Linked DNA regions of Homo sapiens: region 2 is linked to region 1. The links come from fine-mapping of genetic effects on gene expression. A gene starts in region 1. The other region holds a variant in brackets. All regions are shown on one strand. Distances are between the middles of the regions.

Region 1 (2,931 bases):
CAGGTTGACTACTTGGTAGTTCCTATTTCTCTATCAGTTCCATGAGCGTTTTGGGAGAAAGTGACCACATCTACTACAGTCTTTCAACATCTTAAGTTAGATTTGTGTACCCTCCAATTGAATCACTTGAATCAAAACAATAGCTACTAGTCTATTTGACTTTCTTTGCCCAGGCCCCATATATATCTTTTTATTTTATTTTTATTTTTTGTAGAGACAGGGTCTTGGTTTGTTACCCAGGCTGGTCTCCAACTCCTGGCTTCAAGTGATCTTCCCACCTTGGCCTCCCAAAATGCTGGGATTATAGGCCCCAGCACTGCACCCAGCCTCCATATATATTTTTAAGTGTATAATCCAGTGGTTTTTAATATATTCACAAAGTTGTACAACCATCACCACTATCTAATGCCAGAACATTTTCATCATGACCAAAAGAAACCCCATATGCACTGGCAGTCACTCCCAATTCCACCTCCCTTAGGCCACTGGCAAACACTGATATACTTTCTCACCATATGGATTTGCCTGTCCTAGATATTTCATATAAGTGGAATTGTACAATGTGTGTTCTATTATTTTTTATTATTATTATTATTAATTTGAGATGGAGTTTCGCTCTTGTTGCATAGGCTGGAGTGCAATGGTACAATCTCGGCTCACCACAACCTCCGCCTCCTGGGTTCAAGTGATTCTCCTGTCTCAGCCTCCCGAGTAGCTGGGATTACAGGCATGCACCACCATGCCCAGCTAATTTTGTATTTTTAGTAGAGACGGGGTTTCTTTATGTTGTTCAGGCTGGTCTCGAACTCCTGACCTCAGGAGATCCACCCCCCTCAGCCTCCCAAAGTGCTGGGATTGCAGGCATGAGCCCAGCAGTGATCTATTATTTTATAGTCTACGTTTGTATGTCTGACTGACTTCTTTCACTTAGTGTAATGTTCTCAAGCTTCATCCACGTTGTAGCATGTGTCATTGCCTCATTCTTTTATATGTCCTATAATTTTGAAAAATGATGTTTTTGGAAAAAAATGCAAACGCAGAGTATCCCCTAATAGAAATCTTTGCTATTCTTAGAGAAGAACATGAGACAAGTTATTTAACCTAGAGATTTGGCTTGAAAAATTAATATTGACATATCAATGAGGAATAAGAAAAAATATAAATGCAATAATTAAGGACTGATGAAAATGAAAAGCTAATTGGAGCATAAAAGTGATCATCTGAATACAAAGACTTTTCTGCCTAATCTTAGTGAAAATTAAGGTATAGGTTGGATTGGCATATTATGATTTTTAATTTGTTTTTTTAATCATCCAGCAAACTTTTTGCACTCCTGAGTCAGCACATGCATCTGTCAGAGAGAGAAGAGCAAGACGGAGCACGAGGCTGCAGCTGAATTTAGAAAGTTAGAGGTGTTCTCATCAGCCACATGAGATGGGCAGGAGATTCCTTCCAGTAGGCGAGAGAGCAGAGTGCAGACAACAGATGTGAGAAAGGTCCCCATAGCTGTCAAGTTCCTGCATCCTTGTGCTGAAGAAAGGGAGGTGCCATCATGATTGATGTTCAGAGGCAGTATAAAAGCACTGGGTTTCTCCCCAACTGCTTGTCACACCGACCTGCACCATCTCTCGCCTGCCTGTGGGGTTTCTGTCAACTAGTCGTGGAGGGAAGGAGACTCTTTAAAGAATAACATCTTATTGTGGCCATGCCAGAACCCACTAAGAAAGAGGGTAAGACTTATCTAGAAATCTTTTTGTTGTACTCCTGAATAAAGTGTTTATTTTGGTATTTATCTTCAAACAAATAACAAATATCTTAACTAGATGAGAAAATAAAATCACTATGATTTAAGGAAACGATCTTTTAGATTAAACAGACCAGAGGAAAAATACAGCGAGAGTATATTGAATTGAAAAATTTCTGATAACGATAGTTTCTAAAGGGATATTGACTAAAATTATCAAATGATAATTCTATCATTCAATTGTAAAGAATCCTTAAAGTGTAATTTAAGGATGTTAATTGCTGATGGTAAACAGATTACGTTTTCAAGCATATTTTCTTAGATTTAATCACAAATTTTTTACCATGTATTTGCAATTTGCAGAGAGTAGGAGACTTAAAATATTTTCTCAAATGGTTAATACATTGGATCAAGATTTCAAAAAAGAATTTGTGACATTATTTCCATATTTGCTACTTTTTTTAATGGAAACATATTTAAAATATACAGACGAAGGGTTTTTTTTGTTCTTATCAGTGCCTTTGGAGGTTCGTTATTAAATTCTTGCATGGAAAGAAAACCAAACACCTGATAAAAAAGGATGTCCCTGAATATCATGAATAGATTGTTCTTTCATGAGTTTTATTGTAGAGAATTTCATAATATGTAGTAGGCTTTAAGAATAGTTAAGCTGAAAGTATAAAAATATTCTTCCTTAGAAGAAATGTTTTCCCTAACAAAGTTTCTCCTTTCTATAAAAAAATTAGTGTATTAAAGCTACCAATTGGTAACAGAAGTAAATTGGAATTAGTAGTTATGAAAATAAATAATAATAAGCACAAATTAATACTATGCATGCATTGAATTTAATTTTTAATTAAAATATCTTTTAAAAATATTATTTCATTTATATTCATCTTCATTAATGCTTACTGAATCTTTATTTTTCCCTTCTGCAAATAAAAGAAAAAGAAAGATTAGCAGGAAACATAAAAATAGTCATAGTTTTCAGTTTTTAATTCTTAAAAATGCTTTAGCTATTATTTTAAGGAACCTTGAAAAAGATGTTGAAATACTAACCAAATTATCAAAAGTCTTTTAAACATATTTTCTTTATATAATTAAGTAACCAGTGTTGACAGGCTGTGGTGATCAGTTTACAGGTTGGCCTTACTTAGTGGCAGAGGGCATTGATGGATGAAGTCTTT
Region 2 (2,931 bases), 52 kb after region 1:
GGTTATATGTGATTATTTCAGAGTATTGCCAAATTTCTCCCAATTTTAAAAAATAAAATTGAAAAATAACTTGCAATCCATATTTGATATGCCACCTGGGAATCCCATCTTATAATTAGATGACTTTTGCTTTTCCAAAATAACGACTATATTTCATAATGGGTGAATACCTTCTATTTTCAATTCAGGTACTGTTTTGAGCACTTGCAATATTGCATATAAAAGGAACTCTTTAATGTTGAGATAAAACAAAATGTGGGTCAAAGCCTGTGTTTTATTATTTATTGGCCTTCTCACAGATGGAGACGGACTAAAGACAGACTAATCCCTGACGTCTGATGGTATCTCCAGTCTATTATAAAACTACTTTACAGAGATCCTCCTCAGCCTGAGAGATTTTCAACTCCAATATATTTTTTTAGGTTAACAGGAGCCATGTGTACATTTATAAAAGATGTTAATCCTGGAAAGCTGTTACTTGTGGAGTACAATTAGGTGGTTTCCAATTTCTTAATGTGGTCATGCCACTAGAGTGACTTTGTGATGATAACATTAATATCTGGTGTAAAAATCTCTTGAAGATGGCCTGAATTTACCAAAAACATAATTTTAATTGGTTATCTTTATGTAGAAAATATTTTTAAATATCTTGTTCTTGAAGGCTTCAATCTGAGAAATTCCCAAAACAGTGTTTTTAGTCTATTTTAATCCCATCATGTGCTCCTCCATAATACAGATCACAGATAATTATATTTTACAATCTTCTTGGCTTCTAGTTTTTCGTTTCTAAATACTCACATTCTTTCTTAGTACATGTAACTGTATGATAGCACCAGTTCTTGAGCTCATTTAAGAGAACATCACATTCTATAGAACTGCTGCGTGTGTTTGTGGTTATATCACATTATTTCTTAAATTGTATAATCATTTATTCACCCAAGGAAATCTACTATACCACTGGGATAGGTAATGAATAGATCTTATTCATACATCAATGGATAAGATCAAGTCTCTACCCACCTATAAAGTACATGAATTGGTTAGTTAAAGAATGTACAGAGTTAAAAATCTGACACCCTCAGCCAACTCTATCTTCCAACAGTGGGTTAAAAAAATTAAATAGCAAATATGTGAGTACTGATTTTTATTTGAAATAAAAACCTTATGTAAAAGAAAATTATAATGGAAATTAAATAGTATATATAAATATGCTTATACATTA[A/T]GTATTATAAAGATAAAAATTGGTTTTTTTTTTTGGTTTGACGTTAAACTGTGTAAGATATGATACCTAAAGAGCAGATCAAAATTATATCCCTGCTGGGCACGATGGCTCACGCCTGTAATCCCAACACTTTGGGAGGCTGAGGCAGGAACGCTTGAACCGAGGAGTCTGAGACAAACCTGGGCAAGATGGTGAGACTCAGTCTTACAAAAAATAAATTAGCTGGGCCTGATGCCCCACACCTGTGGTCCCGGCCACACGGGAGGCTGAGGCAGGAGGATCACTTGAGCCCAGGAGGTCGAGGCTCCAATTAGCTATGTTTGCACCACTGCACTCCTGCCTGTGCAACAGAGCAAGACCCTGTCTCAAAAAAAAACAACAGATCCTTGACTTTCAAACACTACCAAATTATAAGCCAAATTTGCTGGCAATAAAGAAAAGAATAAAATCACATTCACAGACTCTGTTTATTTTCATCCTATTCAAAACAGATACATCTTTGAACACAAAGGATGCCAGAGAATCCTGTTTATCAATAACTGTCAGATGACAGATGATTCAGAGTATTATGTGACAGCCGGTGATGAGAAATGTTCCACTGAGCTCTTCGTAAGAGGTAAAAATGAAATCTCTTATTGTGGTCACCAGGAGCTGTTGGCTTCTTCTCCCAGGGATAATGATCAAAGTGAAAGTAACTGAGGCTCCTCTACACTGGCAGCTATTATGGATCCTAATGAGTCTTCTGGTTTGTTGAAGACTAGAACAGCAGAGGGGAGAAAGAGAACCTGTTGAGTACAAATGCCTCATGTTTTGACTCAAGCCAAGCACTATCTTGCAAAAATAATTATTCTAGTTATAGCTTTGAAACCCAACAGATTTTACTGGATAATCCTTGTTTCACACACTCAATTGATCACAAATAGGTTTCTCTTGAAACCAGCTTCATTAATAAGTGGTTGGTACCAAGCACACTGAAAATTATCATTTACTAAGACATTGTGAAAAGAGCTGGAGGGTGTGAATACAGCCATGTCTTCCTTATTTTCTTTATGAGGGCTTCTGATGACAGACAACCCTGAGATCTCTGTCATCCATCTGGAACTAGGATCAAAGATTTGAGTTTTATATATTCTCCTTCATCAGAAATGTCTAGCATTTAGTATCTTCTTTGCTAAAAGAATAATATTTGATATATGTTTTGTTTGTTCTTGAGAACAATAATTGATTTGACTTGGAGAACTGTGAAAAAATTGGGAGAATTTACCCAGGGTTGCCTGCTATTTATTTTGCCAAGAACAGACATAGAAAACAAAACAAAACAAAACAAAACTCACAGACAGCCACAGTGGCTCATGTCTATAATACCAGCACTTTGGGAGGCCAAGGCACGTGATCACTTGAGATCAGGAGTTCAAGACCAGCCTGGCCAATGTGGTAAAATCTCGTCTCTACTGCAAATGCAAAAATTAGTTGGGTGTAGTGGCATGCACCTGTAATCCCAGCTACTCAGGAGGCTGAGGCAGGAGAATTGCTTGAACCTAGGGGGTGGAGGTTACATTAAGCCAAGATCACGCCACTACACCTCAGCCTGGACAGCAGAGTGAGACTCTGTCTCAAAACAAGAACAAAAACAAAAACCTCACTTACTGTTATCACCATGTCAACCATAGATGTTGCTTTCTCACTGTTGGTTTTTCATCTGTGAAGAA

Alleles and levels. Alleles are on the strand shown, and positions count from the first base shown. SD is a standard deviation of normalised expression in the study named.
For the expression in prefrontal cortex of the gene that starts at base 1,606 in region 1, allele T in region 2 goes with a lower level than allele A (small effect, 0.36 SD a copy in CommonMind).

What was found. PIP is the estimated chance that this variant, and not a neighbour inherited with it, causes the effect.
Region 2: its variant is fine-mapped to the expression of MYBPC1 in prefrontal cortex (CommonMind, PIP 0.95).

The regions. Positions count from the first base shown.
Region 1 is chr12:101,593,366-101,596,296 of GRCh38, forward strand. MYBPC1 (myosin binding protein C1) reads left to right here and starts at 1,606. Exons shown (of 32, transcript NM_002465.4): 1 at 1,606-1,730. The coding sequence starts at 1,706.
Region 2 is chr12:101,645,050-101,647,980 of GRCh38, forward strand. MYBPC1 (myosin binding protein C1) reads left to right here. Exons shown (of 32, transcript NM_002465.4): 13 at 1,714-1,838. LOC105369937 (a long non-coding RNA gene) reads right to left here. Exons shown (of 2, transcript NR_188371.1): 2 at 1,671-1,979. Among named protein-coding and RNA genes, the nearest start is that of CHPT1, 51 kb to the right of the region's middle. The variant A/T (reference allele first, on the strand shown) is at 1,223.